Regions from separate parts of the Homo sapiens genome. Here region 1 is linked to region 2. The links come from fine-mapping of genetic effects on plasma protein levels. A gene starts in region 2. The other region holds a variant in brackets. All regions are shown on one strand. Distances are between the middles of the regions. Region 1 overlaps KYNU (kynureninase). Region 2 holds the start of KYNU (kynureninase).

Region 1 (11,240 bases), 150 kb after region 2:
AGTTACGCCACCAAGCTGTCCCTCTGAAGTCAAGCCACTTCTCTCCGATGCCCAGCTGTATCCTGTCTACTGGCTGAGTCTGGGATTAATATAGGCACAGGATGGGGCGGGGTGGGGCCATGAGTGGTTTAGGAAAAAGCAACATTTGAGCGGGAAAACAGGGATAGAAGTTCTCACTTTGGGCTGTGGTTTCAGGCTTTTCAGCTTGAGGGTAGGAATTCCTGGGGACCTACTCTTTTCTGCCTAGATTTTCTGTGCCTGCTGTTCCCTATCACTAATACACAAATCTTGGTGTACTTCAAATAGTGTAATCCAAATAGTGTAATCCAATTTAGATAAATTGGAAGGAGTAAAATTTCTGGGACAGAAAACAATGCATATTTCCCATATATCTTCTTAAATTGTCCTCTAGAAAGATTTTATTACTTATTTATTATCATTATTCAACAGTGGTTGATTTCCTTTTCTTTGAATCTTTAATGAAAATATGCATAATTTTAAGTCATTTTGTATATTTGATATATAAAATATGGTCTCATCTTTACATTATAGTGTGAAACATTAGTGAGATTGAGGTGTTTTTGTTTGTTTTGTTTGCTTCTCCTGAATTCATGGGGCACAGACATTTCTCCTTTATAAACTGCCTGTCCCTGCTCTGTAGCTGGGTTGCTCTTGGTACATTGTCCTTTTTCTATGTAAAAACTCTTAGTGAAAACTCTTTCATATGGGACAAATATCACTTCTCTTCCCCATCTCTGGTTTGCCTTGCAATTTTGTCTGTCTTTTTAATACAGAATTTTAAATGTTTATAAATCTGTTGGTATGTTCCTTTGAATTTTCTTCTGTTTTATACTTAGAAATTTCTGTTTTGAAAATCATGAGTATGTAAATATAATTTTTTCATTTTTGCATTTTGGAAATGTCATAATTAAGAGGTGATAATTGTGACATGATCTGAGGACTGTTTCTGTATTTACCGTCATATCTCATTTGTCTCACTGATGTTTCTTTACTAGAATTAGTCTCATTTATGTACTGCATTTTATAATATGCAATATTATCATATAAAGCATATAAGATACTATTACAAGATAATATAGCATATTCCTCACTATACTTTTCTATTCTATATAAATTTTAAAACATTTTGTCATCTCCCAAAAAATAGTGTCTTGGAATTTTTATTTGGACATCACTAAAACTAAAATATTTAGGGATAATTGATCAGAAGCAACATGATATTTCTCTTTCTAAATTTTTTATATTTTTCTCTAAATTGTTTTATAGTCTTTTTCATGTAATATATACACACACGTATGTGATTTTCCCTATATATTTTGTATTTTATGTCTGGCTTATTTTACATTCTTTTTTTTTTTTTTTTTTTTGAGATGGAGTCTCACTCTGTCACCCAGGTTGGAGTGCAGTGGCTCCATCTCGGCTCACTGCAACCTCCCCCTCTGGGTTCAAGCGATTCTCCTGCCTCAGCCTCCTGGTAGCTGGGACTACAGGTGTATGCCACCACGCCCGTCTAATTTTTGTATTTTTAGTAGAGACGGTGTTTCACCATGTTGGTCAGGCTGGTCTCAAACTCCTGACCTCATGATCCACCCGCCTTGGCCTCCCAAAGTGCTGGGATTACAGGTGTGAGCCACAGTGCCTGGCCAACATTCTTATTAACAATATGAGGCCAGGCGTGGTGGCTCAGGCCTGTAATCCCAGCACTTTGGGAGGCTGAGGCGGGCTGATCACCTGAGGTCGGGAGTTCAAGACCAGCCTGACCAACATGGTGAAACCCCGTCTCTACTAAAAATACAAAAAAGTTAGCCGGGCGTGGTGGCACATGCCTGCAACCCCAGCTACTTGAGAGGCTGAAGCAGGAGAATTACTTGAACCCGGAAGGCGGAGGTTGTGGTGAGCCAAGATTGCTCCATTGCACTCCAGCCTGGGCAACAAGAGCAAAACTCTGTCTCAAACAAAACAAAACAAAACAAAACAAAACAAAAACAATATGAAAGCAACCAATTTCCTTTAAAAGTATTTTTAAAACTTTCAACAATTGTATGGGCTTTTTGGGTACATTTCTCTTTAGAGATTCTATTGTGAAAATATTGTATTAATTGTTTGACCTTTTTGAGCTTTTAGCTTAATTTTAAAATAAAAACTGCTTAATATTTTTGTTCATTTTATATTAAATAAAAACCGGTCATTAACTATAACTCTTAAGTTGACATTTCACACAAAAATAATAATAGAGATGGATAGATTTTTATCCTCATTCTTTTAATTATAAATATTAATTACCATATGATACCAGATAGTATTTTATCTGCTGAAGTATTTGATGACTTATATTACAAATGGCTTTATAATGCAGGCCCCAGATTTCTAAATTAGTAGTGTTTATTTTTATAGATCAAAATATCATGTCCAGTCACAGTGGCTCATACCTGTAATCCCAGCAGTTTGGGAAGCCAAGGCTGATGAATCACTTGAGCTCAGGAACTCAAGACCAGCCTGGCCAACATGGTGAAACCCTATCTCTACTAAAAAGACAAAAACTAGCCGGGCATGGTGGTGCATGCTTGTAGTCTCAGCTACTTGAGAGGCTAAGGCACAAGAATCGCTTGAACCCAAGAGGCAGAGGTGGCAGTGAGCTGAGATCACGCCACTGCACTCCAGCCTAGGCAGCAGAGCAAGACTCCATCCAAAAAAACCCCCAAAAACCTAATGTTTTTATTTATATTTTAGATTAGTGGGATGGTTTGGCCATGAACTCAGCACCAGATTTAAGATGGATAACAGTAAGTGTATTTATTTTACCTAATGCCATTTTTATTTTAACTTTATTTCAATGTTCATCTGTCTTTGTATTATGTGTAATGTATATGCCCCAGGGAGAGTGCACTTCAAAAATGTCACTGAGAATTCTCAAATAAGAAATGACATTTCCAGAGTGTAAGACTAAGAGTTTATAGATTTTAGCATGATTTTGAGTCTATCCCTTAGCAGGGAGATAAAAGAAAATGAAGTCCAAGGTAAGGGTCATGTGGCTTGGTCAGGTGCCATCAACATAGAGTGCCTGAAACACTGGGCATGGAGGACAGGAGGAAATTTGGGGCTTGGAGTCAGATCCAGAAAGACCTGGGTGTTAATCACACTTTGCTGCTTAATAGTTTTTTGATCCTGCACAAGTTATATCATCTTGTGTCATTGTTTTTTCTTTCCCACTTATCTAATGTGAATAATAAAATCTATTTAAAGATTTGGTTTTAGGGTTAGTCAAGCTCAAAACAATAAGCCAAGTAGGACACAGCAGTACCTTAATAAATACTCATTTTCACTCCTCTTTTTTCCTATTTTCCTTTTGTGGCTTTTGCCATGTACCAAAGAGTGTAGCAATTCCTGTGAGCAGTTAACCCCAGCAGATAGAAGTGAAACTCTACCATGCAGAGCTTCCTTTTCCTGCATGACCTCATTTCTCAATCACATGGGATGCAGAAAGATCATACGTGCTTTGAGAGTTCAACATAAACTTGATCCTTCAGATTGCTTTAAACCCTGAGATACTGTTTTAAATTTGTTTTCATTTTTTATTGACTTTATTTTTTTGTTTTTGAAACAAGGTCTTGTTCTGTCACCTAGGCCGGAGTACAGTGGTGCGATCAGGCTCAGTTCAGCCTTGATATTCCTGGCTCAAGCAATCTTCTCGCCTTAGCTTCCTAAGTAGCTGGGACTAGAGGTGTGCACCACCATGACTGGATGATGATGATGATGCTGATTATTATTATTATTATTTAGTGGAGATGAGGTCTTGCTATGTTGTCCAAGCTGGCCTGAGATAATATTTTATATATATAGGTGCTCTTTGACTTACAATGGGGTTATTTCCTGATAAGCCCATCATAAGCTGAAAATATCATAAGTAAAAAATGCATTTAATACACCTAATCTATAGAACATCATAGCTTAGCCTAGCCTACCTTAAAACACATTCAAAACACTTACATAGCCTAGAGTTGGGCAAAACCATCTAACACAAATCCTATTTTATAATAAAGCATTGAATATATTATATGATTTATTGAATACTATACTAAAAGTGGAAAACACAATGGGCGTATGGGTAGTCGAAGTATGGCTTCTACTTAAGATGTACTGCTTTTGTATCACTGTAAAATTGAACAATTTTAAGTCAAACCATTGTTAAGTCAGGGACCATTGGTATGCAGATTTGTAGCAACCAAATTGCAAAATGGGATATTCCAGTCAAGTCAGGATACCTGTATTTTACCTTGGCTGCTAAAATAATTAGATCTGTTATTATACCAGTTATTTAAATTCTTTGAGATGGGTTTTCTTATTTGGAAATAAAGGAATTGAATTTGATCAGGGGTAGCAAACTTTTTCTGTGAAAGGCCAGATAGGAAATATTTTAAGCTTTCTAGGCTATACAGTCTCTGTGGCAAATACTCAATTCCGTCATTGTGGTGGTAAAGCAGCCATAGGTGATACATAAGTGAAAGATTGTGGCTATGTTTTCATAAAACTGTATTTTAAAAAGCAGGGCCTGGCACGAAGACTCACGCCTGTAATCCCAGCACTTTGGGAGGCAAGGCAGATGGATCAATTGATCACAGGAGTTTGAGACCAGCCTGGGTGACATAGTGAGACCTTGTCTCTATAAAAACTACAGAAATTAGCCAGGAGTGGTGGTATGCATCTGTAGTCCCAGCTACTTGGGAGCCTGAGGCGGGAAGATCACCTGAGCCCGGGGAGGTCAAGGCTGCAGTGAGCCATGATTGAGCCACTGCACTCAGGCCTGGGTAACAGAGTGATACTCTGTCTCAAAAACAAAAACAAAACTAGTGGGTCAAATTTGGCCCACAGGCCATATGGCCATATATTAGTCTGTTTTCACACTGCTATAAAGATACCACCTGAGACTCAGTAATTTGAAAAGGAAAGAATTTTAATTGACTCACAGTTTCACATGGCTGGGGAAGTCTCAGGAAACTTACAATCATGTCAGAAGGCAAAGGGAAAGCAAGGCACATATGAGGTGATGGGAGGTGAGAGAGAGAGAGAAAGAGAGAGAGTGCATAAAAACTGCTGTTTTTGGCCGGGCGTGGTGGCTCACGCCTGTAATCCCAGCACTTTGGGAGGCCAAGGCGGGCGGATCACGAGGTCAGGAGATCGAGACCACCCTGGCTAACACTGTGAAACCCCATCTCTACTAAAAATACAAAAAAATTAGCTGGGCGTGGTGACAGGCACCCGTAGTCCCAGCTACTCGGAAAGCTGAGGCAGGAGAATGGCGTGAACCCGTGAGGCGGAGGTTTCAGTGAGCCAAGATCGCGCCACTGCATTCCAGCCTGGGCAACAGAGCGAGACTCCATCTCAAAAACAAAAACAAAAAAAAAAAACAAAACAAAAAAAACTGCTGTTTTTAAAACCATCAGATCTTGTGAGAACTCCTTCACTATCATGAGAACGGCATGCAGGAAACTGCCCCCATGATCCATTCACCTCCCATCAGGTCCCACCCTCGACATATGGGGATTACAATTCAAGATGAGATTTGGGTGGGGACTCAGAGCCAAACCATATCACCATAGTTTGCTTAATCCTGGATTTGATAACTATAAAAAAGTCATCAAGTTTTAACATTCTTTTAGTCAGTCATAGTGTTAACTTATCTCTGACTAGCTATCTTAACCCTATTGAATTTAACTTGCTACAGTTCAATCTGCTTAATTCTAATTAGTAGAGCATCTGTTATTAATTTACCTTTTTTATATACTTAGGCAGATCTTTTTTTTAAAGCTCCCTCTATTGTGTGTGTGTGTGTGTGTGTGTGTGTGTGTCTGTGTGTGTTCTGTAAGAGAAACCACTTGACCTAACAATCCTAGAGCTAAAAGTCAGCTTCATAGGTCATTTCATTCATATTTCTGCCTTTGGGAGACATTACAATTACATGCCACTAAAAGCTGATGCTCTCTCTCATTGACATGGTTTCATAATAGAATAGCAAATGTTGAGCAGAATAAGGAATCCTGGCTTGGGAATAGGAAGGCAGAGAATGAGATCCAGAAAAACTTCCAGAAGAGGTCATTTTTACCTTGGGTCTAAGATTTCTGGTGTTCTGCTAAGAAGTTGGGGACAAGGGAGGTGGGAACTGCTGGTAAACGGGAAATAACGTCGATATTTTAGTTCCATGGAGCTTATCTTAAATATCTCAGAAATCCTACTTAGGAAGAAAAGTTTAAGTCTTGCTCTTTTACTCTCCAGTACTCTAGTATCTTTATGGACACTTTTAAAGTTACCTTCTATGATAATGACATGATA[T/C]TAATTTCTCAGAACTGCAGTTAATCCCTGGGGTCTGTGGATTCCGAATTTCAAATCCTCCCATTTTGTTGGTCTGTTCCTTGCATGCTAGTTTAGAGGTAAGTGATGTGTGTTTCAACCTTCCCACATCTTTGCGTTTTTTCTTGATCTGTTTGTGACAATTCATAGTACTTTCTCTGCTACACAGCAAGATGATACATGTGCACTGTGCATGAACAAGGGACAGAAGGCAGCATTCCCCTTTAGGACAGTGATGATGTGGTGAGGGTCTCCCTTCATTCATGTCACCAGCCCCCAGCACAATGCTTGGCACATTGTTGGCACATAGTAAATATTAAATGGAACTCTTTTGGGGAGATACGTTTTTTACTCCACTTAGAATCTGTTTAAACATGAATAAGTTATTTAACCTTCTCTTGGCCTCTCTTTATACCAAATAAGCATGCAATATTTAGTTCTTCATAAATTCGCTCATTCAACATAAATTTATTGAGAAAATATTGTGTGCCTGATGTGATTACTAGGGACTGTACTTTTTCTAGTTCATTGTAGGTGAATGAACTGACCAAGTACCATGTGACAAAGCTAGGAAAGACTTACTTGAAGGAAAAAAGAATAATCAGAGTAAACCAAAGATTAAATAAGGTTGTCTCATAAGGTAGGGTGGTTTTATGATTTTTTTAAATTGGGACTTCTATGCCATTATGTCCATTTATAGTCTCCACTATCACTGACTCAATATTTTCCTTTAAATTAATTTATATTTTTATTTAGGTAAATTTAGTCTCACCCTGAAATGATAAATATACATAACAAGAAAATGAAATTGTGATTCCTTAGATACTATTATTTAGTGTTAGACTAAATGTGGCCAAGTAAAAATATATAGGTTATATAGTATAAAATTCATATATAATGTAAATGTATAAATATTTACATAAATAATGTAAATATATAAAGTAATTGTATATTTTGTATACCTATATTTAAGTAAAATATATTTTAAGTAAATGTGCATATATATTTCTAATAGAAGTTTTACATAGAACTATTCAAACAAGGATTTGAAATTTTTTCATGTCTCCTTCTAAAATCATGTAGTTTATGATATTTTGGCAAAAACTTATAGAGGATTTCAGCATCAAATGAGTGACAGGATGAAGATTCAAAATTCCTTCTAATCTAAAATTGCATAATTCTGTGAACACTTACAGCAGTTTCTCATTCTGGCCACTGGATGGCAGCATCAAGTTCCTCTGTTTTTATTAAATTTCACCACTGGATAGTGATCATCACCTCATTTCATTCTGTCTCAATTTAAAGCGCACCTACTCAGTTTAACCACTAGATGGAGCTTGTGTTGTTTTCACTTCATGGCAGAATTTTTCTTTAACTTGGAAAATAGACACAGTAACGAGATTTTTCAGCCAGTGATATATATTTTTGACAGTTTTTTGAGTAAAAATCTGCTTAGTAAATCAGATAATGATATTTGAGTTGTTTTTATAGTATCCATTCAGATAAATATTTTGTTTAAACATTTTAAAACAAAATAAAGTTTCTGCATTCCTTGCAAGTTTGTATCAGCGAGATGTGTGACAATATCAGAAGCACCAGGACATACCTTAGGAAGAGCTTGTACCTAAAGTAATTTCCTCTGGTGCCCATATCTTTGCAAATAACTTCTCAGACGTACCTGGAAATTTCCTTTTAGACGCCTTCACTTTGGCATACTTTCTGCAGTGGACTGGCTTTTCTAGTAGTATTCACCCTTCTCTTGTGGGAAAGGAAGCACATTCCTATTCTTCCAGCCACTGTTTTCCTACCACACTGTATTAGAGTCACCTAGACAAAGTTTTTATTTTCAGTTATAATCTGAGAACTGATTTATTTTTTCTTTTTAATATCTAAACTTAAACCTCAGCCTCCTGAGTAGCTGGGACTACAGGTGTGCACCGCTACACCAGGCTAATTTTTGTAGTTTTTTGTACAGATAAAGTCTTACTATGTTACCCAGTCAATATCTAAACTTAAAACCCTAAAAGCCACAAGAAGAATGATATGCATTTCTCTGGATCTTCTAATCACTTACATATTTCCCTTGAGCCTCTTTCTGCTCATTTCACTGCTGAGACTATGTTCTAACCAAAATTATCTTTAGTTAATCAAGCCTTATGTTGGTAAAAGTGTTTTTTCAAAATTCTTTCCTACTGTAAATTGCAAAATTTTTGAATTACAAACTAATGCATTGAATTGCTTCCCTTTCTCTGTTAAAATGTCTTATTTTCTAGACATTTATGGGTTTCTCATGTGAGTAAACATCAGTGAATTAACTATGCTTCTATTAATACTTACCTTCCTTTAAGTTTTATTTATTTATATTTAGAGATGAGGTCTTGCTCTGTTGTTCAGACTGGAATGCAATAGTACGATCATGGCTTAGCATGGCCTCAAACTCCTGGGGTTCAAGTGATCCTCCTGCCCCCACCTTCCAGGTAACTGGGACTGCAGGACTGCACCACCACACTTGGCTGATTATTATTATTTATTTATTTTATTTCTTTATTTTTGAGACAGGGTCCCCTTCTGTCACTCCTAGAGTGCAGTGATGGGATCTCAGCTCACTGCAACCTCTGCCTCCTGGACTCAGTTGATCTTCCCACCTCAGCCTCCACAGCAGCTGGGACTACAAGAGTGCACCACCATGCCCGACTAATTTTTGTATTTTTTTATAGAGACAGGATTTTGCCATGTTGCCCAGGCTGATCTTGAACTACTGGCTGCAAGTGGTCCTCCTGAGTAGCTAAGACTACAGGGCATGCCACTGTGCTCAGCTTATTTTTAAATTTTTTTAGAGATGAGGTCTGGCTATGTTGTCCACGTTAATCTGGAACTCCTGGCCTCAAGCGATTCTCCTGCCTCAGTCTCCTGTTTGAAATGTTTGTTTTTCAGTGCTATAAAGAAATAGCACTTGAACGCAAATTTAATTTATTTAGTAAGGCCATTTTTACTTCCTGCAGAGAGGATACACTCGCCAGCAGTTTTGCCATGAGAGTACACCGAACAAAGGAGACAGGGTCATTTATAACCTGACGTGTCCACCCTACTGCTGTGTCCAGTTCCAATGGCTGGAATGGGACCTCCCATTCTGTATTTGTCCCGATTGGCTAGTAACTTAGAACTTTTTAAAAGACGTAAAGGTAGAGGGTAACAAAGGAAGGAGGAAGTAACTTGTGGAATGCTAAGAAAGGTAAAAACACTTTTAAATAAGGAAGAGGAACAGGCTGTGACCTAATGCTGCTTGGACCAGTATAAGCATGCCAGGGCAAATATTTAGGCTAAATTGTGGGAGCTAAAAACATAAAGTATATTGATTTATTTATTACAGCTAGCAGATATTTAAGAATGTTAGCACAGGTCTTTGAATAAATTTTGCTTCTAAGAGAAGTTACTATTTATTCCTAATTAGACGGGAAGGAAAGTCTTTGAAGAGGAACCTCTACTTTACTTTTTATACTCCTAAGCAGTTGGGATGACAGACGTGAACCACTGCACTCAGCCACCTTATCTTTTTAAACCAGTTTATTCCATTTTAGGAGATAGGTGGTTGAAGTTTCAATAAACGAAAGAAGTAAATGCATGAATCAAACTGCCTCTTTGTTGTCTCTACTTTTAAGAAATATTCAACACAGTCAAATACGAACTGGAGGAGAGATTCTATACTTAAGAATCAATCACATATAAATAAGACCTTAGATTTTTAATGCAATGACTTTTTAAAAAGATATTAATATGGCTTTTTTTAATAAATACATGTGTATATGGTTGATTGATATAAAAAATAGCACATTGTAATCAGTTTCAAACTGTCCTTTTGTTTATATTTTTTTATCTGAATCATTTATACAATAGTTCTTAAAATATTGTGGATCAAGGGATGAAGCCTGAGGCCAGGAACCTGGTGGCAAGTACTCTCTCCCTCAATGGACACGAAGTGTGACCTTACACAAGCAACAACTCCCTTTGGATGTATTTGCCTTATTTTTTAAAGTAAGATGTTTGGACAAGATTATTTTGGAAGTCTCCTCACTTTCCAAAATACTTAAATTTAAACAATACGTATATTATATTTTGAGGGTTCATATTTATGTGTAGCGATAGGTAGACAATATTTAGTCCCTTTCAGTATTCTGAATTCATAATGAAATAAATGGCTTCAAAATACAAAGTTAGAGCATTCAATTAAAATACATGGCGAGTCAGAAGACTCAACAAAGAAATGTACTATACGTTTCCTTTCAAATTTCCTAGAGAGACAGTTTTAAGAATTTAAGAGAAAAATATGACAATTGAAAACATCACACCAAACTTATTTTTCCTGTTTAAACTTATCTAGCTTTTCAAGCTTTGTGTTCATTTTGTCAGTAAGAAAAAAAATACAAGTAGTTGAAACTCTGCAAAGTATTATCTTCTAAGCTGAATATTTTTCAAACCACAGTTTTCATTTTTTCTAATTTAAAAAAATTATTTTCTCAATATTGAAAGCATAACATTTATGAGAAGCAAAAAAGAAAATAGAATATTTATGTTACTTCCCTATTATTCTCTCTCAATATTTTTATGTGAAGCTCAGAATAGACTTTTACCCTCTGTGAGATGAATTTAAAAGTGCCTCAGAATGCAGTTGCCCTTATTGTGGTTGTAATGGAGAAAGTAAGTTTTATATTTAAAAGTTATTTTATGATTTAAAGAGTGTTAACATTCCACAGTATATTAAGATGGAAGCTATTTGTCATACCAAAAAAATTGGTTTCTAGTTATCAAGAGAAAGCTTCAAGAGCAACATTCCCTACGCCCCTTTAAAAACTAAATGCAAGTAATATTCCTCCAAG
Region 2 (11,240 bases):
TATTTAAACTTTGTATAATCTTTTTACAAAACAATTTAAGTATAGAATCTTTCCACTTTGGGAGGCCAAGGCGGGCTGATCACGAGGTCAGGAGATCGAGACCATCCTGGCTAACACAGTGAAACCCTGTCTCTACTAAAAATACAAAAACAAAATTAGACAGGCATGGTGGTGGGCGCCTGTAGTCCCAGCTGCTCAGGAGGCTGAGGGGAGAGAATGGCGTGAACCCGGGAGGCGGAGCTTGCAGTGAGCCGAGATTACGCCACTGCACTGCAGCCTGGGTGACAGAGCGAGACTCAGTCTCAAAAACAAACAAACAAACAAAAAAACAGACTCTTTCAAGGTGAAAATAAAACCTGTTTATCTGAAATAAATAATAATAATTAGCTCTGAGGAAAATAGATGTGATACAATTCCTTATCAACTTTTTTTTTAATTGAAACAGTATTTTGAAGCTTACACTCCTATTCTTAATCAAGCTTTGGAACTGAAATTAGCATAATTTCAGAAAATGAACAGGAAAGCTCATCTTTTTGTATGATCTGGAATAGTTTGAATAACATGAGGTTCTCCTAATCTTTAATGCTGTGCTAGAATTCATATGCAAAACTTTTCAAACGTAATGTTGCCTTCTATTTTTTTTTCTGTACTTCCTGGCAGTGGGGATGTTTCCTTTTATACAATAACTCTTTAAATGCATTTTTAATCTCCTCTAAAGGAATTGTTTTCTTCAAGTGTTTCTCTTATTTGGTCAGTTTTGAAAATTTGTATTTTGCTAACTAATTATATTTTTCCTCTAAATTACAAAAATATTTCTATAGAGGACACTATTTTCTTACATGAAGACAAGTTAAAATTTCAAATGCATTTGTCCTTTTCTGTTTCTTACTAGCTCTTATTCTTATCTAATACTCTGCATCTTCCTTGTCTAGATTCAGAGCCCCTCAGAAGCACTTTTCTTTGGCTTTTGGGGACATATTGCACCATTCTTCAGATCCTAGTCTAGTGAACTCTTTTCCCCTGCCTGCGATGTGGGGTTAAGACAATTTAGGAATTTGCTATATTTTGGTGTCTGTCATACTGTAAGCTATGAGAAGTTTCAAACGACTGGCAAAATGGTGGACCCATACTGGACACTTCCAAAATGGGAAATTTTACACCGTTTATTAGTGACACTAGAAAATACTTTGCCAGACAAACATAGGAAAAAGGACAAATCCCAGAAGAGGATCTTGAAGTGACATCTCCAAACATCAGCTCTACACTATCCCTGTTGATAGTCATTTTTAATATTAAGAAAAAAAATTTTCTGTTGTAAGTTGTTATGGTAAAAGAGGGCATGTACATCGTACCTTGTACTATAGAAAGAAACCCTGGTATATGAAAGCTTTGTCTTTAAATGGAGATTTTGTAATGCCTGTTCCCGTTTTCCAGAGTCATCATGACATCAATGATGTTGTTATGTGGTCAATGATGTCAATATGACTCAAGTCACTTTGGGTTTTTCATGTTTTACAGGAAACTCAGAAATTCCTCATGTAAACAATCAGACAATTGAGCAAATTGACCTGCAAACACATATAACAGAAAACTACTAAAGTTCTTCTGCTACCGCACATGATTTAGATTGCCTTCTATACCTTTGTGAGTTTAACAGTGAGGGAAAAGTTCTGATCTAGGAAAAAGGGAATGGGTTATAGGAATTTTAGATTCTAAATAAATTTTAATCACCAACTGGCAAAATGTCATTTGCTTATAACGAGCCCTTGCATTTTCCTCTGAAAAACTGAAAATACAACATATAGAGAGGGTAGGAAAGTCCCCGCCCATTACTGAGAAATTTTTCTAATAACCAGACTATGTATCTCACAGGAAGGAAAAAGTAGATTGTCTAAACATAGCCTAGTGATTTATTAGCATATTAATTTGCTTTGCCTTCCCTGTTGTAGGAGGGAGAGGGAGAAGAAAGGAGAGTATGGGTGAGGAAATGAGAGTGCAGTGGAGGGAAGAGAGAAAAAGGGAAAAAGAAAAGGAGAGAGAGAGAGAGAGGAAGAGAAGGCAAGAGGAGGGCATTAGAGAAAGAGGAGAGAAGGCAAGAAGAGGGAAAGAGGAGGGGGCAGCAGGAAAGGAAGGAGAGGGGAAGGAAGGACAGATAAGGGGAGAGGGAAGAAGAGAGGAGAGATAATTTTGTGTGTGCTCTGTTTTTTATATTTTCCCCTACCCATATAGAGAAGATGCTGTAGGTTCCTTGGCAGAAATTGCTTAAGGCAAATCTCATGACTGGCATTTGAGAAAGTTTTTGTTATGTTATATTGGTTATCCCCAAGGGGAAGTTTGGAAAGAGTGATTGGGTGTGCAAGGCCCCAGGGATATGGTGAGGGGAAAGGAGAGGCAGGAGGGCAGAGAGAAGGAAGCTAATCTGCCCCTCCCATCTGGGAACTTCCCAACACCCTGTGTAAAGAAGAAAGGAGAGTTCCAATAATGACTCAGAGTAAATTTTCCTCCTAAGAAGTCACATGTGAGCTCTGCGTTTTTATTTAATTAAGAAAAATAGCGTATTGTGAAATTTTCTGTTTACCCAAGTTTGAGACTGCAGTTTTTTTTATTAGTTCTTTCCTAACTTGTCTCTGTCTTTAATCTCATTACTCATTTCACATACTGAGCACCCAGCATTAGAGTGTTATGATCAGCCTGGTAGTGCAGCCTTGGATTCTTACATAAAGAGTTTGCTGATCTGAATTTAATTTAGTTAATGATCCAGCAAGCACCCATTTTAGTCTACTAAATGCTAGATACTGGCCTAACTATGGCGAAAATGCCCTGAAGAATAAGAATAAAGTTCATGGTTCAAGATTACCTTTTGAGAGGACAAAACTTTCCCATATTTCCAATAATCAATTTTTAGAAAATAAACTAGATCTTAATTAAAAAAAAACAAATTAACCAATTCAGTAGATATTTATTTAGCTCCATACATAGGTAGAGCTCTGAGGAGGATAAAATTAGTCTTTTCCTCTCGGAAACATATCATTTTATAAGCAGGATGCCATACCTGGAAATTAATAGACAACTCGGAATTGTACAACAGCTTATTCTGGCAACACTTTTTTTCTTCCTGTTTCCAAAAGGAAGGAATGGTATCTCACAGTGTTCTCTGTTTAACCTTGACTGCTGGCCCTGTAGCGGGTCTTGCTTTCACCCCTCCCCGCATGACTCGTTCTCTCATAATTCCCTTCTGTATTTAGCGGCCTATGTTATTATACAAGTTTTGCTCCCCATTACATCCCTGGCATTTCACTTTGTGCTTGGTACAGAGAATATGCTTAATACTTTTCTTGAATGAATGAAAGTGTCAACTGAAGAATGACAGGTTCATACATTTGGAAAGGAGAGCTTCATTTCACATAAAGGATTGCAGCCTGCAGGGTGATCATTCTGACCTCTGAAAAGTATAGCCTCTAATCAGAAGCTGGAAACAGACATTTTGAGGGAGGAGCAAAGGAAACAGAAATTTATGTTGAGCAGGGTAGCTGAATATATATATTCAATAAGCTATAGGGGAAGCCATGAATATTTGTGAAAGGAGAAATGTGCACATGCACAATGGAGTTTCATGCTTCTCCATGGGATCCGTGTTCAAAAAATGACAGCATTAATACAATCTGAGGGGGCAGTTTTCAGCCCAATGTGAAGCAGAGGACATGAAAACCTTTACTGCACATTCTCCATAGACTAGCCAGAAACATTCCATGATCAGTATTTTCTTTTTGTTCCAAACCACAAAAGAGAGGGATAACACCAGGTGATGGTTGATGTCATTGGTGTAATCTTTTGAAATGACTGGTTTCTTTTTAGCCATAGGGCAGAAAGCCTAATCATAGTTAGTGATGGAGCGGGTATGTGTTCCACTTCCTATCCTGTCATGGCCAAAAACTTAGTTTTCAAGTTTACTCTGGGATCCCCTTGGCCAAGAGCGTGTCCGTTCAGTTAATCTAGGGGCTTGGGATTTTATTTTTATTCCTCAAATGTAACAAATTTAAAGAAAGAAAGAAATTTATAAAACATAAGAAATAGAAGTATAGCTTAGACCTCCAAGCAAGTTCTTTAAAGGTGACAAGTTAAACAGTAGTTTTTAAGATAATATTTTGATGAAATTTTTAATCATATTATTACAAGATTTTAGAAGAAGCAAGATCTTGTGAAAACAAAACCTTAATGTCCATATCTAGCTCTCTAAATCTATAGTCAGTCTTTAAAAGAGTGACACAAAAATGACACAGATCCGCCCTCTGGTTCGCTCCCCATATATTAGAGCCTGGTAATCTTCCAAAGTTTTTACAGCATGAGGCATACACAGAATAGATGCAAAAAAAGTACACCTTCTGAAATTTCCTGAATGGATTCAAACTTTTACTATTCTAAGTTAATCAATTGGTAGTCTACTTACTTTATAGGATTATTGTAAGGATAGGATCAATGAAGTGAAATATATTTTATTTTCACTGGTCAATTACTCGTATTAAAGCAATTTCATGCACTTTATCTCCCTCTCTTGGAAACTGGAGAGTAGTACTTTTTGTCTGGTTACTTAAGATTAAAAAAAAGACAATATGTCACTTTTGACTTGAGTGTCATGGTATCTATGGCCTTCAACCTGCATGGTTTTATCGTTTCAGTAATCTTGGGAGGAAGGTATTATTAAGTTCATTTGATAAATAGGAGACTGAGCCTCCACAAGGGTTAAGTGAATTGCTCAGGGTTATACAATGAACACTTGATAGAAATGATTAAATGACACTTTACTTGATTTGTTGTGGGTTACTAAATAAAGCATAGGTGTGCATAAGTCATTCAATTATTCAAGCACATTCTTCATCCCTAGTCCTAATATCGAAAGTCTTTGCTCTTAGTTTTTATAACTACAAGGATATTCATCAAAAGACCCAAGCTCAGGAATAAGCCTAAAGAGGTAGTCAGACTAGAACAAAAGACAATTCACAGACTTAAATGAATAATTTGCATTAATGAAGTTTGCCAGGCTAGTTTCCACTTGAATCTTCAGATCTTTCTTCCTTCATTGTCTTGTTAACTGTCCAGATTTATTACCTAGGAGTTTTTGAAAACTCACATATTAGGCAATAGAGTGTATTCTGGAATTGAGAGCCTATTTTAAACTTTTGACTAAAAAGTTTACCCATTAAATGTCATAGATTCAACCATCAGACTGAAAATCCTCAGTGTATTTGAAGGAGGGTATTGTCTCAAAAATCCAGAGCTCAAAGTGAAGAAGAAAGGCAAAATTTGGAATTTAGCTCTAAGACCAACTCATCAGTTCAGGGGTCAGAGATTTATATAGTTAAAGGACAAGTGTGTGTTTACCTGAGTTTAAAGAGCAAAGTTGCCTCTGGAAAGAAGCCCTCACTGGAGGCTCTGGCATTTGAAATGGTGGGCAGGAGCACATGTTGCTTAAATTTCTGACAGTGGCTGGAGATTACCGATTGGTTAGGGGAGAGGAAGTAAAGTAAAATATTTATAAATTCTCCACTGGGTGGAGTCTGAGCAGTTCTTTGAATTTCTCACCCTAAGATCTGGCCTGTACATTTTCAAGGAATTCTTGAGAGGTTCTTGGAGAGATTCTGGGAGCCAAACACTCCATTGGGATCCTAGCTGGTAAGCTTGAGGCGCTGATAAAAACTCTCTACCCTAATGTTTACTCCATGTTTTTTCCAAATGAAACTTCTGTCAGCTAGAATCCTTGTCATAGTGTTTTAGAGGTTTTTTTCTGCTACTCTCTTCTTTTTTTATATATATTCTTTTTGTAAATAAAAATGGTATGACCTTCCTAAAGGCCCCACCTTTAGAAATGGGTTAAATGAAAAGATCTTTACTAATGTAATAGAAAAGAACTGATGAACATAGTGCACTGAATATGGTTACATTTGACAAACCAAAGTTAGTCCTGTTCTTATTTGAGTTTAAGCGGTAAGATTAGGTCAAACTCCAGACGAGGGAAAGATATTCTTAAACAGATTTTAAGTCCTCTGTTTTCTGGTAACTTTAATTGTCTTATGCTGCTAGTAGTCATATTAAATATTTATTTAGAGAAGTGAAAATGCCTACTCTTGAACAGAGTTTCTTCCCCTTTCATTTTATGAAACCTAAGAAAAGAAAGTTGATACACTTTTTAAAAATATACTAGATTTTCTTTTTTCCTTTCTGCTTTTATTTTGAGGCCAGTGGGGTGTTATTTAGTAGTAACACTGAAGCAAATGTATTGATTTTCTTAACGTGTTCAGCAAGTAATTCATATCCTAGATATGAAATATACACTCGTAGCAGAGTAATGTTACCCATTTCTCAATGATATGCTTAAAGAATCTTGCTCAATATGCATATTGTTTTTCCTTTTTTCTTTACTAATGAAAAACTACACGCTTTCTCAACATATTTTTAAGTCAGGTTCTAAACTTTGAACTCCTATGTACAATTTGCTTATTTCAGGCATGAATGTGAAACTGTGTAAAGATTAACTACCAGACACTCAGTCATTTATTTAACTATTTAGCCCTAAATCAGTGGGTGACTAGGAGATTCTGAATTCTGTGATTTCGTTAAAATCAATCAGTTTTTAATTATTATACAAGCTTTTTACTTTAAAGTTGTAGCTGTCTAAATAAAATTGTGAAAGCACAATTTCCAAACCTAAATCGAAGGCACATTGATGCTGTCCATCAGAAGGTATTGATAATTTAAAAAAATATTACAAACTATCTTTTATCTTTTTATAAAGGACCTAATGTCATTTGAGCTTAACCATAATCCTTTGAAGAAAGTAAAATTTAACTTTAAATAACATTGACATACAGAGCAGTTAGGTGATTTGTCTGAGACCATATGGTATGTATGTCCCCCGTCTTGATAAAATTAACACTAAATATGTAACATTTGAAAATTTGTAAAATATGTAAAAGTTGAAGTTTTTAAAAGTTTGGATTTAAGTTCTTCCTTTCAGAATATGAGCATGTCACTTTATTTGCAAACTAAACATGGCATAACATTATGGCTTGTGAACACTAATTGTCTTAGCTGCTGGGGTGAATGCAGAATTAAGCAGCAATTAGTATGAGTGAATAAATTGCATCCTTAGAGTGAGTGCACTATGCTATTCTGGGAACTAAAGACTATATTTGAGACCATGCGAAGTTGTGCAAGTGGTGGAGTAGGGCAGGGTGCAGTCATTTGGAAGACTATGCCCATCAGGTATCTCAAGGTACCCCAGATGTGACAGGCCCAGGAGCGGAACCAGCCACTTTAACTTTTGCCTGGCTGAAACTGGACTGGGAAGGATGGATTAAAAAGGTAAATCAATTCATACGTAGCTTGTGGTCCTTTGCAGCTTAAGTGTAGGACTGAAAAAAGAAGCCAAAGAAAAAGGGAATGAGCTGAAGAAATACACACACGTACACACACACATCAGGAAGCAACAGGCAAGGAAAAATAAAGTGAGAGGTTCAAGGCTTCGAGGAGGAATTGAGCTCTGTGCATTCCATTCATGGGCTTTGCCAAAGACCAGCACAATGGACTCAGCATCTCAGGCATGGTTAAGTACCCTACTGTGCACTCTGCTATCCTTTTAGTCCACTGGTTTCTACTCTGTCTGTGCCAGGTTTTCATCTCAATATAGAGGAAAAGGATTCTGATGCCTCAGGATTATTACAAGCATTAAATAAGATACAGATAGAATGACGCTAATGAGTATCATTTTTAAAATAAGGAAAGTTGAATTTTATTCAGAATCTGTTGGTAACAAACTAATCTCTTTATTTAAGTAACCCCACTTAGAGTTTAAAGTCACCTCCAATCAACTCAAAGGGCTGACCTCCCAAAGAAAGTCTCAAATATAAGGCAAGCTCTCTTGATTCTGAATTTCATTAGAAATGTTTGTCTAAGTCTTTCTCATATGGTCAGAATGAGAGAGGGTGCCCTTCTAGTAATATGTCATTATGTCAAATAATTCATCAACCAATTTTGTTTATTCTCTCGAACTGCCACTTTGGCGGCAGGGGTACTCTGTCTAAATGAGATGTCTATAAAGATAAATTAAACATGATTCAGGCCCCCAGGTAGAGTTCAGTTCAGTAGGGTAGAACAGCAACTCAGTCCAGCTACCATCAGTAATATGTTTGTAGTAAGACTAATCTGATAGTAAGGCAGAAAAACATCTCATGGAATTTTAGGAATAGCCAAGAAGATGGGTCCCCTGGAGACTTGCACATAGCATGTTGCATGAAGGATTCAGTGACTTGCAAGATGGGCTTGTCTTGTCACCTTTTCAGGAGACATAGCTGTTCAATCCCTTGCCATTGTGTAACTAAGTGACTCTTACTTGCTGCTGGAATCACTTCATGCTTTTCATGCTTTAACAATCAGTGGTTCTGTTTTACTTTGAAAAATGAGTCATTCTATGACAGTATTCCTCCTAGACCCTAGCATTTCATAGCTTCTATCTATGATTATTTTAAATTCTAGCTCCTGTATCTAACTGAATGAATAAGCACATCCCACAGCTCAGATTCCTGAAAGAATTTGATTATGTACTCAGCTAAACATCATCACTGTTTGGTTAGAGCTTTTATAGCAAATAATTCACAGATCTTTGATGAAACTACATTGTCTTTAGTGGGTAAGTGTCCAACAGAGGTCTAATAAACTATGACCAGGCAATTGATAATGCCAAGCGGTAGAGACACAGTGATCTCTCTTCAAAATGCAGTTTCCTTCATCAGAAAGCTATGTGTGGGGAGCCATTTAGAATCAAGTTTCAGGCATAGCAAATGTTTTTGATCTTTCCTATCCATACATATGTCCAAATAAATATAGTACCTGGCAGAATGTATTATTATCGTAAGTAAAGTACATAAGTGTGCTCTTAATTGTTATTGGTGTTCAGAGGAAGACGGGCTACTTTTGCCTGAGACATCCTAACAGGCCTCTTGAAAAAAGCATTGGAGCATTAGGTCTTTGAAGGTTGGCTAGAATCCAAACAAGTTGAAGGGGAGCAAAACATTTTAGGCAAAGGAAATGGCATGAGAAAAATCACAGAAATAGAAAATTTCATGTGGAGGACAAATAATACTTATGGTCAGATATTGAAAGCACCATCCATCAATGTTGAAATCCTACACTTTTGTACAGAACCATGGATTGAAGCAGTTAGGAGTCACAACTGATATCAAAGTAAAAAACATGCAATGGTGAACCTTGGTATCTTTGTCTAGGAATATAAAGAATGGCTTATCAGTGGAGACCATCGACAGTTGAGAAAAGAAGAAGCCCAAAAAGTACAAGAATGAAAATCGAGAGTGTAAGAAGAATGTCTGTTTTACTGGCATTATCTAACACTCAGATATGCAACTCTTTATTGCCAAACACTGTGTGTGTTAGTTAAGGTAAAAGGTGAAGGGAGGCAGAAGAATGGAGATTGAATTGAATTCTAGAGCTTTAGTTCTGTGTGAGTTTGGGCCCCCAGAAGTTCTAGACATTAAGTACAGTCTGAATTGAGAAATATTAAACATATCTTGTGATCCAATATTCCCCTAAGTTATACACTCAAATATCCAATGACCAGCTTGACATTTCTACCTGCATGTTCAATACTTATTTGAAACTTAATATATCCTAAATATAATTTTTTTTTAAACAGTCATGCTCTGTTGCCCAGGATGGAGTGCAGTGGCACAATTAGCTCACTGCAACCTCAGACTGCTGGTCTCCTACCCCATCCTCCTCGGTAGCTAGGACCACAGGTGCATGCCAGTGCCAGCACACCTGGCTTTTCTTTTCTTTTTTCTTTTTTTTTTTTTTTTTTTGTAGAGATGACATCTTGCTACGTTGTCCAGACTGGTCTCAAACTCCTGGCTTCAAGCAATCCCCTGCCTCGGCCTCCCAGTGCTGGGGTAACAGGTGTGAACCACCACAACCAGCCTGCTAAACTGAATTCCAATTTCCCTCCTCAAAATTTTTCTTCCCCAGGTATTTTTATTTCATCATATTTCACATATTTGCCCATATCCCAAAGCTAGAAGAAAGCTCCTTTCCTGTCCTCACTAGAAATAATCTATCCACCAGTCCTATCTACTTTTTCTCCAAACTACATCATAAATCCACACTCTTCTCTCTACCTTTGCCCTCATCACCAAATTTAATTCACCACCGTTTCTCTCCTGAACTACTGTGTTATCCTTAATCGGTCTCCCTTTTCAACTTTTTTTTTTTAATTATACTTTAAGTTCTAGGGTACATGTGCACAACGTGTAGGTTTGTTATATATGTATATATGTGCCATGTCAGTTTGCTGCACCCATTAACTCGTCATTTACATTACATATTTCTCCTACTGCTATTCCTCCCCCATCCCCCCACTCCACGACAGGCTCCGGTGTGTGATGTTCCCCGCCCTGTGTCCAAGTGTTCTCATTGTTCAGTTCCCACCTGTGAGTGAGAACATGTGGTGTTTGGTTTTCTGTCCTTGCGATAGTTTGCTCAGAATGATGGTTTCCAGCTTCATCCATGTTGCTGCAAAGGACATGAACTCATCCTTTTTTATGGCTGCATAGTATTCCATGGTGTATATGTGTCACATTTTCTTAATCCAGTCTATCATTGATGGACATTTGGGTTGGTTCCAAGTGTTTGCTATTGTGAATAGTGCTGCAATAAACATACATGTGCATGTGTCTTTATAGCAGCATGATTTATAATCCTTTGGGTATATATGCAGTAATGGGATTGCTGGGTCAAATGGTATTTCTGCTTCTAGATCCTTGAGGAATCACCACACTGTCTTCCACAATGGTTGAACTAGTTTACAGTCCCACCAACAGTGTAAAAGTGTTCCTGTTTCTCCACATCCTCTCCAGCACCTGTTGTTTCCTGACTTTTTAATGATCGCCATTCTAACCGACATGAGGTGGTATCTCACTGTTTTTAAAACTCATTACAGAGCTAAGTGGTTTTTATTTAATGTAAATTTATATCACATTACTTTTCTACTCAAAACTCCCCAATGGTATCCCATTAAACTTATAAAATTTCAGTTTTCTTTCTGGCTCCCAAATTTCTTTTTTTTTTTTTTTTTTTTTTTTTTTGAGATGGAGTCTCGCTGTCGCCCAGGCTGGAGTGCAGTGGTGCAACCTCGGCTCACTGCAGGCTCCACCCCCCGGGGTTCACGCCATTCTCCT

The links. PIP is the chance, under the fine-mapping model, that this variant and not a neighbour inherited with it causes the effect. Protein levels are from antibody-based Olink assays in UK Biobank. Linkage for the fine-mapping came from a reference panel and not from the study's own genotypes, which makes the PIPs less certain.
Region 1: its variant is fine-mapped to the plasma level of the KYNU protein (UK Biobank, PIP above 0.99).

Annotation. Positions count from the first base shown.
Region 1 is chr2:143,026,876-143,038,115 of GRCh38, forward strand. KYNU (kynureninase) reads left to right here. Exons shown (of 14, transcript NM_003937.3): 11 at 2,752-2,804; 12 at 6,361-6,446. Among named protein-coding and RNA genes, the nearest start is that of ARHGAP15, 97 kb to the right of the region's middle. The variant T/C (reference allele first, on the strand shown) is at 6,349.
Region 2 is chr2:142,872,067-142,883,306 of GRCh38, forward strand. KYNU (kynureninase) reads left to right here and starts at 5,598. Exons shown (of 14, transcript NM_003937.3): 1 at 5,598-5,670.